Linked DNA regions of Homo sapiens: regions 1, 3 and 4 are each linked to region 2. Evidence: fine-mapped expression QTL. A gene starts in region 2. Each other region holds a variant in brackets. All regions are shown on one strand. Distances are from middle to middle.

The links. PIP is the estimated chance that this variant, and not a neighbour inherited with it, causes the effect.
Region 1: its variant is the best candidate, but not a certain one, in a credible set for the expression of RTCB in whole blood (INTERVAL, PIP 0.89).
Region 3: its variant is the best candidate, but not a certain one, in a credible set for the expression of RTCB in sun-exposed skin (GTEx, PIP 0.79).
Region 4: its variant is the best candidate, but not a certain one, in a credible set for the expression of RTCB in whole blood (INTERVAL, PIP 0.55).

What each region holds. Positions count from the first base shown.
Region 1 is chr22:32,386,547-32,389,251 of GRCh38, forward strand. It overlaps RTCB (RNA 2',3'-cyclic phosphate and 5'-OH ligase), which reads right to left. Exons shown (of 12, transcript NM_014306.5): 12 at 1,036-1,553. The coding sequence ends at 1,446. It also overlaps the pseudogene RGL4P1. Among named protein-coding and RNA genes, the nearest start is that of RFPL3S, 17 kb to the left of the region's middle. The variant T/C (reference allele first, on the strand shown) is at 1,371.
Region 2 is chr22:32,411,078-32,413,815 of GRCh38, forward strand. It overlaps RTCB (RNA 2',3'-cyclic phosphate and 5'-OH ligase), which reads right to left and starts at 1,170. Exons shown (of 12, transcript NM_014306.5): 1 at 987-1,170. The coding sequence starts at 1,079. RefSeq lists an enhancer at 1,140-1,319.
Region 3 is chr22:32,348,099-32,350,598 of GRCh38, forward strand. It overlaps a transcript of SLC5A4 not described here. Among named protein-coding and RNA genes, the nearest start is that of RFPL3, 8.5 kb to the right of the region's middle. The variant G/T (reference allele first, on the strand shown) is at 1,333.
Region 4 is chr22:32,363,372-32,366,119 of GRCh38, forward strand. The region is part of intron 4 of RFPL3S (RFPL3 antisense); the gene reads right to left. Among named protein-coding and RNA genes, the nearest start is that of RFPL3S, 6.5 kb to the right of the region's middle. The variant C/G (reference allele first, on the strand shown) is at 1,634.

The sequences.
Region 1 (2,705 bases), 25 kb before region 2:
GGCCAGGGCCGACCCCCAAGAGAACCATTCCCAGCACAGGGGTTTCCTATCTCTGCCTGTCCTCCATGCCACATCTGCCTCTCCCAACCCAAGCACCAAGTGGCCCAGAGCTGGAGTTTTGATGGGCAACCTGCTCACACATCTGCCTGGAGCTGCAGTTGTGAGTGCCCAGGTGCTCAGCACTGTGTGCCAGGGCCTTTGGGAAGAGAATGTCAGTAGGAAGCCGGGGCCCGCAAGGGTCTGTATAGCCCTGCTGCATGGCCAGGTCTGCCCCTATCAAGACAGCACAGATGGCTGGGGCTGGAGTGGGGCTGTCCTCTACACAGGAAGCAACAAGCCAGGGGCCCAGAACCACAATAAAAAGCCCCGCAAGGGCCAGGCGCGGTGGCTCACGCCTGTAATCCCAGCACTTTGGGAGGCTGAGGCGGGCGAATCACGAGGTCAGGAGATCAAGACCATCCTGGCTAACACGGTGAAACCCCATCTCTACTGAAAATACAAAAAATTAGCTGGGCATGGTAGCGGGCGCCTGTAGTCCCAGCTACTCGGGAGGCTGAGGCAGGAGAATGGCGTGAACCTGGGAGGCGGAGCTTGCAGTGAGCCGAGATTCCGCCACTGTACTTCAGCCTGGGTGACAGAGCGAGACTCAGTCTCAAAAAAAAAAAAAAAAAAAAAAGCCCTGCAAGGCATGTGTAGGAGGGAGGCCAGGCCTCTGGTTCTGCTGTGCCCTCCATCACCAGCACCACCACCTACCTCCATTTTGTTCACCCGGCCCCATGGATACAAAAACTCTGCCGTGTATTTAGAATAAGAAAGGTAGTAAAGCTATGAAGACTTTGTCTTTTGGGCCGCTATTCCTTAAACCTCCCCATACTCCCTCTTCAATGTGTTCCACTATCCATTCATCTAACAGCCTGATTACAACTCCCTGGGTGCTCTCCAAGTAAGAGGGGTATTTAGGGTTTTGCTGAGTGCAGGGGTGATGCCTAAATGGGTGGATGAATGGACAAACTGACAAAGCAACAGACGAAAGGAAACATTCCAAAACCTTATTGAACAGAACTTTCTTCATGACACCTCTCGGAATGTAAACAGAGCTTGGTGTGAAGAAGATCAATCTGATGGCTAAAGATCAGTATGACTGCGTAAGGCAGTTTGACATCTACCCATCCCTAACAGATTTTCCTAAAACTCTGTGGAACAACCAAGGAGAAGGCATATTCCTCCCTTTCCAAAGGTGGGCAATGTGCCTCTTCCTGGAAGGTTATTTTACAAGCACGGGCCCCTGAAAGCAGCAGCCTCCCCATCAGCCATTTTGGCGTGAGCAGTTACAGCTGCACACTTTGCAACTTGTCCCGCCTTGAGTCTGA[T/C]GTCAGAAGAGCATGTCAGTCCACTTCCACTTCAGAGAGGGTTGGTGGTGTCAGGCAGCCCTGCTGTCCAAGGTTCTATCCTTTGATCACAGCAATTGGTCTCAGTTTAATGGCTTTCTTGCTGATTCCAGCATCATGGCAGGTATTTACCACATCTGTCACATTCTTATAGGACTCAGGAGCCTGCAGGAGAGGAATTTAAACATTGTACAAGTCCACTGAAAACACAGTCTTTACAAGCACCAAACTTCACTTGTGATGAAATAAATGCACACTAAAATAATACAGAGAGTTTTTTTTTGCCTATGAAATTAGCAAAAATTTAAAAAAGAAGTAAGCCTGATGTTGGTCAGTGCTGATTTCCAAAACACTTTCACCTTTTTTTTTTTCTGTATTTTTCAAAATGTCTTTAAAGAACATGTATTACTTGTATAACTAGGAAATGTAGTAAATGTAAGTAAATAAAACACACACCAGAACCTGATTGGAAGAAACGGCACCCAACCATCATATGTTAGTGATAATTATCTCTTGATGGTAGAATTACTGGCAATTTTAATTTTCTTCCTTTATATATTTCTGCAGTTATCAAAATTTCTGGAATGAACATGTAGTACCTTCACAGTAAGTTATAAAATTCATATATGTATAAAACAAAGTAAAACTGTGTGCACATGTATATGTGGGTATCTATGTGTACCTACACTCACAGACAATTTCTGTGACTTTCCAGCAACATTCCCACCATTCCATCCTACCCACACAGCCTTGCCACCATTAGCACTAATCTCATCACACACTCACTTTATCTTCATTCCTGTCAATACAAGCTTAGGCCATCCATGCTGATTCCCGTACGGTTCTGTACATAATATCCTTTTCTATCCCATCTCCCATTCCCTTCCAGTTTCTGAAACTTTCCCACTGTGGCCTCTGGAACTCCTTCCAGAAGGAGCAAAATCCCCTCCCTCCCTTCTTCTTTGAATGTTCCCTTCACCTTCTTGTTTTACTGAAACACGGATCTTTCCCGAGGATACCACTTTCATCTCCAACTTTCTGAATGGTGACTGCTGTTTTCCCCAAATCAGGTCATGCCATTGGTCCCAGAAGTGGGACAGGTGTGCTCCTGGCTTTCATGGTTGTTTCTATTCTCCCGTTCTCCCTAGGCACTCCTAGTTTTGAATCTTGCAGTCATTACATCGTACCACAAACTACCTTTGGCTGTAGTTATCTGTGGGAGCCTGAATCACTCCCCAGTACTACTTGGCGATTTCTAGCTCCTGGCAATCAGATGAAATTCCACTGGGCCAATGACTGTCTCTCCCCTAGATGAAT
Region 2 (2,738 bases):
ACAGAACACAGATTTATCCCCGTGCGCTTTTTCTTCCCTCAGTGTAAGTGACTTGCCAACAAGGGAAACTCAGTAAGCTTTGATTCTGAATAAAAGAATGGAGTGACTATTGGGAGCTGTTTACCAAGACGTGAGACGAGACGGTAAACCTTTGAAGCATTTACTTGGCACCTTCAGGGATTTCAAAAACTATTTAAAAATACGTTGCAAAACTTCATAAACGTTTTCTTTTTTCACATTAATAAAAATATGAGCACAGATGGTGATGAAGGCCGAGAGATACAGAGCCCAGGCTTTCAAACTATCTGATGATCCTGAGCCCTCAAGTCTCCATCTGGGACGTCAAAGAAGTAAACCGGACATCAAGTCCTGGCTGAGCTTCTTCCTAGGTGGGTAGAGGAAGCTATGTCACCGACAGATCCTCGAGGTCCTTCTGTGAAGTGAATATTAAAATCAAACAGGCCCTGCCCTGCGCTACTGCAAGAAATGACATCGCTTTATTAAAAACCAACATGCGATACTGAATGCTGAAAACCTGGTTTAGTGAACAAAGGTTTGTAAACGTTATTTAAATAACCAGCATGACTCAGAGGAGGTGAATTCCAGTCCCAGCAAATGAACCTGGGGCTGGCTGTTCCACCCTGGAAAAGATCACTGAAGTTTCTGTGAACGTAAAACAGCTCACGATACGTTTATGAGACTGATCTGTGAAAACGCTTTGGAAACCCCAATTTCGTATTTATTTAGATTCCCATATCCACCGCACTTAGCTTGTCCTCGTGGTTCGGGGACCTCTCCTGGCGGGAGGTGGTGCCGGAACAGGTTGGGCGGCCCCAGAACCGTGAGGGGAGAAGGACGGGATGAGGGAAACTCTGCAAGGGGCCGGGGCGGACCCAGTGGTCAGGGGAGGTCCAGAGGGCGCAGTGGACGCCGGCCGGGCCGGGGACGGAGCACGGAAGGCCCCGCCATTTGCTCTCCTGCCTTACCTGCATGTTGGGCACGAAGCCCTTCTTGATCCTCCAGCAGTTTTTATTGATCTTCTCCAAGAACTGCAGCTCATCATTATAGCTGCGACTCATGGTGGCGAAAACTGTAGCAAAAACTCCCGGCTCCGCTTTGAAGAGCCGCTGCCGCGTAGTCCGGCTTCTCAGAGCACCGCCTTCCAAGAACCAAAGCGCAGGCGCGACCAGCGCCGCAGCAGATGAGCAACGGCAAGCGCCGAGGCTCAAAATTCTTCAGGCCAATGTCTTTCCTCTGGTTAAGTTGTACTGTCCTGTAGTGTATAACTTTAGGATCTTTATTAGTCGATTTCCTCTAAACTACAGCTAAGCGAAATCCAGAAGTTTAAAGTATAATCTAGTTATCTTTTGTTTTGGAAATGCTTTTCAGCAGCTTATGAAAACACCTTGAGTCTGGGTCAGGTTCGGTGCATTGGCTTGGAGTTTACACCCTCAGCTGGGAGGGGAAAAAGATAACGCCAGCAGCTGAGAAAGAAAAACCTGTTTGAGTAAATACCATAGCTGAACATTTATGTTTCAGAATGAATCTGGATATACACCAAATAACTTTTTTGGTCAGAAAGGAGCATCCCAAAGAATGAAGCATGGCAGCTTATCATTTATTCTGACAAACACTTGTGGGTGCATCTATTGTGGCCAGACATATACTACAAAATGATCAAATCACAGCCCTTATGGATCGCCAAAACTCCCCAGTCTAGCCGCATTTGATGATCAAGACCTCTTTAATCATGCTTTTATACGCCGTGTCTCTTGTTCATAGTGGTAAGTGAGCTTTAAGTGATTTCAGTTTCCAGTTCGGCCTCATGTCAACAACTGCAACTTTGGGATTAGAAAGACGCAAGATTCAATTTCTATCTGTGCCATTTACTGACTTGGTGTGATTAACCCCTCTTATCTCTGTTTCGTCATCTCTAAAATGGGATCATAATTCTTTCTTGAGTAGAAGGCTAAATGAAGTGACACTGGAGGGGTAATCAGCACGGGGCTTGGCACACGGCAAGCACTCTATAAACAGCTCTCCTCTTTCCATTCCCCCACTAGACTGTAAGTGCTGCAAAAAACAGTATGTAGTTTCCATTCATTTGTTGCATTATCTACACTGGTTCCGCTTTTCTTCTCTTCTGCCCCAATTTCTCCCCATTGATTAGGTGCTCTGACACATTAATATCATTCTCAGTTATGAATTGTCTGAGTTTAGTACTCTGCACTGCCATTTCATTGAATCTGTGGTGGGTGAAAAATCCCAAAGCTTGAAGTGATACAACTTTTAGAGTTTCCTGTGGTTACCCTGTTCCTTCTTGGAAAGATTTCAGAGGTAAAGAATTCTCTTTTAAAATCAAGCCTTGATGTCTGTGCAACCTTAGGTCTCTTCCCTTTTCTATGTCTTATTTTATTTTATTATTTTTTTGAGTTGGAGTCTTGCTCTGTCGCCAGGCTGGAGTGCAGTGGTGCCATCTCGGCTCACTGCAACCTCCGCCTCCCAGGTTCAAGCGATTCTCCTGCCTCAGCCTCCCAAGCAGCTGGGACTACAGGTGCGTGCCACCACTCCCAGTTAATTTTTGTATTTTTAGTAGAGACTGGGTTTCACCATGTTGGCCAGGATAGTCTCGACCTCTTGACCTCATGATCCGCCCACCTTGGCCTCCTAAAGTGCTGGGATTACAGGCATGGCCTACTGTGGCTGGCCTCTTATTTTATTTTTTAAAAATTCAGGGC
Region 3 (2,500 bases), 63 kb before region 2:
GTAAATCCTCCATAAACATGGGCTTCTGTGACTTAGGGTGAGCTCCTGGAGGACAGGGAGGTGTCCCGTTTTTTCCAGGACACCTCCAGGGCCCCACCCCAGGACTTCGCTCTGTGCCAGACACGCAGTAGAAACACAGATTGCTGAAGGAACTGAGTCTCCATTTCTGTGGCTACTGGCCAAAGACCCAGAGAGCCAAGGCAGGCTTCCAGAATGCCCTCCCCACCCAGGCCAACTCTCCTGTGTGTATCCATCTCATTTCCTGGGTAGGTGAGGGCAGAGCAGCAGCCCAGGCCTGGCCTTCTGTGCTGAGTCTGGTGGGGGCCAGCAGCAGCTGCTCCTCCAGGGGAGTGCCTCCCAGTGGAGGCCAGGAAGGAGGGGAGAGCTGGGGGTGGTGGTGTTACCAGAAAAGGGTCCCGATCCAGACCCCAGAGAGAGCTCTTGGATTTCTCAAAAGAAAGAACTCAATATGAAACCAAATTTTATTTTTACGTTAGTACATCTTTAATGTTAAAGCTACTTTTTAATAATAAAATTTTATGAATCTATCCAGTTTTAATTAATGACTATAAGGTAAGATTTTCGTAACTATTTATAACTCTTTATAACATTTTTTCTTGTTAAAGAACTGATCAATGTTCCAAAAAACCCTATTATTTTGACATATGGGCCCAGATTCTGGCTCTGTTTCAGTGCCTTCTGTTTTAATATTTAATTTATGGAAGAACTAAATAATACCCTTTTCATTTTGGTCAACACGCTCAGACACACAATTCTTTACAAAGTTAAGTTTCATAAATGTCCCATAACTTGCTTAAATTTTATTTTCTTTCAGCTAAAAATAATACTTAAAATTTCTAAGTTTAGACAAAACTCTTTGTTGTTGTTGTTTTTTTAAGACAGAGTCTTGCTCTGTCGCCAGGCTGGACTGCAGTGGTGCGATTCGGCTCACTGCAACCTCTGCCTCCCAGGTTCAAGTGATTTCCCTGCCTCAGCCTCCCGAGTAGCTGGGATTACAGGCGTGTGTTACCAGCCTGGCTAATTTTTTGTGTTTTTAGTAGAGACAGGGTTTCACCATTTTAGCCAGGATAGTCTCGATCTCCTGACCTCATGATCCACCCACCTTGGCCTCCCAAGGTGCTGGGATTACAGGCGTGAGCCACTGCGCCCGGCCTTCCCACGCCTTTTTTAAAAAATCAAAAACAGGTAATATTTCTTTTTAGTATAAGCAGTTTTAATTACGTACCAGGTGCAGAGTCTAGGATACAAGACAGAACTGCAGATAAAGTCAACTCTTTCTAGCATAGCTAGGAGGCATGGCTAACTCCACCT[G/T]TCCCAGGGCCTTACATAGAAATCTAACAGCTCCAAACCACATAATCTGAACAATTTTCTAAAGTCAAAGAAGTGGTCTATGACATTAAAGCACTTAGCAAATTTAACCTCTGACTTAATTTACACCAAATGTCTAAATTTTGAAGACATTTTCATTTTACCAATAACTTTTAAAAGCCTTTATTCCCCAAAGATTACTGAAATCACATGAACTAAAAGGCATTAGAGCTTCTATTTTTCTTAAGAAGTATTTGAGAGCTTTCATTCTCTTTAAAGCCAGTTAATTAGAACTCCTTTATACAAACATCACACATACAGCACTTCTAGACAAGATTGAGCAGTTCTAAGTTTTTCTTTCCCATATTATGGCTTTCTGACTTGTCCTATATTTCTCTCTTTTTCTAAATAGTCATTCTACTTTAGGACAAGAATTTGTAATACAAAATCCTCCCTCCCATAAAATCTCTTTCCTTCATAACCTTCTTTACCATAAATACACCTTCTTATCCGCAACTTTCTTTAGCTCTCTTTCCCCAACTAATTTCTGATGCCCGCCCTCAACAAAAAGGTCAGCTAAAGCAAGGCAAAACAAAGCAGAGCCTTCCCCAGGTTTTGAGAGGGACCTGTCTGCTTACACTTCTTGGGGGTCCATGAGGAAAACAGAGGCTCCTCCTAAAATGGGGTCTCTGGCACCTTCTGTTTTTCCCAAGGACTCCCAGGCTGCCAGAAATTACCTTAGCTCCTCTCATGTGGCCATCAAGAGTGACAGCAAGACAAAGACTACCGAAATAATTCAGTCAACTGAGAAGAAAAACTTAATACTGCCCCCATTGTAAAGATGGATACGCGGAAGTGCCACGCAGTTTAAAAATTCATGTACACATACAGTTAGGCTCCAAAGCTCACTCAACCATCCTGTAAAAGTCTGCTAACACTACGCCCAGTCACTGATGCACTTGGTATGGTAGCTCATGGCCCCCTTAGAGCTTAGAACCTGGGTTTCATGTCCTCATCTACAGCTATATAATTTAACAATTTTCCTCTGAATTTGTTGGCTTCTACCCCTATATATCTCAAATTGTATTAATATTACTCAATCTTAAAGGAGACTGTGATGCCTTTAGTCTGTAGAAACATTAATCTGTAAACAAATGACTACATGAGGTTA
Region 4 (2,748 bases), 48 kb before region 2:
AGGTCATGTAATCCCTCGGCCCTCAGATCTCTGCGCTGTCATGTTAAACTTTTCATAGGGCCTACTTATTAATCTCACAGTATGGGGCTAGAAAAATCACTAAATGCAGGAGAATATTAAGAAAGAGAATCAGAACTTCAGTAGTGATGTGTAAGGGTTTACTAAATGCCAGAAGGAATAAGCCGGAGACTTAGTAGTGGCTGAACACAGAGAGGCTGCTTGGGTGGCTCCAGGCCAGTGGAGGGTGGTTCCCTGTTCATCTTTTACGTGGGTGTGATGCCTTACAACTTCTGGAGGACATCTCCTATTATCTCCGGGACTCCCCACATCAGCCCGGCAGGGTGGGCACAGGAGGGGCTGAGTATCACTTAGAGATGGTGAGAGATTTGCAGAATCCCATTCTAATGAGTGAAGGATCTGGGGGTTGGAATAAATTTGGTTCCCTAGAGACAGAGATTCCTGAACAACTGAGACCTCTATATCGTGCCCTGGACCACTGATCAAAGGGACCCTTTCACTCTCTTTCTCCAATACTTTTATTCCCAAGGTGTGTGGAAAGACAGAGTTCGTGCTCGGGAAGAGTCGCCTGAGATGAAGACAGGTCCCTAATTATAAAGCATTCTTTTCCTCTGCCTTTCAAATCTTCCACCCCAAGTATGACACAGTTTCCTTTAAAGGATGTCACCTGTGGGACCTTGGGAAGCACAAATGCGTGGCCTTCCTCCCCCACTCCCTTCACCCTGTCAGCTGCCTCTCAGTAACTGTTTCCTCCAGTGATCACAGTGAGCGACCAGTGTCTGCCTGTCTCCAAGACTGCTCAGGCCTTAGAACAATGCAAAACATCTATCACAAGATGCTTCTGCAAGTAACAACTTCTCTCCCACTTATCAAACCTGAATAAGTAGCTAATGCGAATTAACTGAAAAAGAGGCCATCTGGGCTGGTGCTTTGGTGGTTTAATGAATTTAGTCTGCCACCCCCACTTTCTCCTTGACTGCTGATCTGAGCCACCTGGAAAAAGGTGTGGCTAAGAATGGGCAGCAGGTGCACCAGCAGGGAGTGTACACCTTATCAGCTCATTCTTTCCCCATCAAAGATCACTTTCTATTTTACAAACTCCACATCCATTTCTTGACCTTGCCGTGGCAGGGGACAGTCCTATCTCCTGTCAGAAAGACCCCTCCGGCCAGGCGCAGTGGCTCATGCCTGTAATTCCAGCACTTTGGGAGGCCGAGGTGGGCGGATCATGAGGTCAGGAGACCGAGACCATCCTGGCTAACATGGTGAAACCCCGTCTCTTCTAAAAATACAAAAATTTAGCCGGGCATGGTGGCGGGCGCCTGTAGTCCCAGCTACTCGGGAGGCTGAGGCAGGAGAATGGCGTGAACCCAGGGGGTGGAGCTTGCAGTGAGCCGAGATCGCGCCACTGCACTCCAGTCTGGGAGACAGAGCAAGACTCTGTCTCAAAAAAAAAAAAAAACAAAAAACCCTCCATAGCCACAGCCTGGAAACCTCTGCCCCAGGACTCTGCCCCAGGACTCTCATTCAAGGTTCACTCTGATCCCCCTTTCCCTCTGACTCCAGATGTCCCTTCCATTAACCCAATGGCTCTGCCTCTTCTCCCAATCCTTCA[C/G]CAGTGAAAATGCCACTGATTCTCTCTCGTGAGCCCTCTGAAAGTCTTCTCATAAAATACCACTCTTCATCCTATTTTTTTAAGTCCACCTCTAGATCACTAACATTTGTTTTCAGATTTTGGGTTCCACATTCAGAGGAATGTTTCTGTCCTTCCACTTTCCAGTCAAGTCTATTATTGCAGGAGTGGAATCAAGATTCTCCTAAAATGATAAAGCACTATGGCTGTGTTTGCTGTGTATTCTCTGGAAGTGTGTGCCCAGGATTGCCAGTCTTTATTATTTGGTAGAAATAAAAGTAAGTCACATGGTCCTGATATTTACATTTTGAGTTTTAAAAATTTTTATATTGTTTTCATCAAAACTCACTTTAGATATTAATATGTTCATCTTGGTATTTTCTTCTAAATGCTATAAACCTGTGTTTCCCATTATTTGTTTCTCTTAGTGAGCTATATCCTTCTGTGAACCCCTGCTTGCTCTCAGAGGGATCCTAAATACAGAAATGGAGATTTGCATTACTGTTTGGAAAGATCTCATTTTCCGTTCTCAGAGCCTCCTATGTGCCTTAGAGACCACCGTGTCCCTGCTTTAACCCTATGTAATAGAAACAAATAAGATCTTTATTCTCAGAAAATTCAACAGTCTTCAGAGGAACCCACATTCTTACACAACTCTGTCATCCAGGTCTCAGGCAAAGCCCTCATAACTTGGCAAAATTTAAGGTATCACAACTTTACAAGCTTCTATTTGTTATTATAAAGATGTGCCCACTTTTAGTAGAGATTTTAGCAACAGTTGCCTAGTTAATAAAACATAGAAAGTTCTAGAAGAAAGCACATAAAGAACATACTATGTAAAATTTGACCTAAAAATGACCAATCTCACAGGGACACACAGAGCTGAACAACACACACGGGGCTATCGGATGGGGGACGGTGGGAGGAGGGAGGATCAGGAAAAATAACTAATGGGCGCTAGGCTTAAAACCCAGGTGACAAGATAATCTGCACAAGAAATCCCCATGACACAAGTTGACCTATGTAACAAACCTGCACATGCACCCCTGAACTTAACAGTTAAAAAAACTGGTGGGACAAAATGAGATACCATTTCA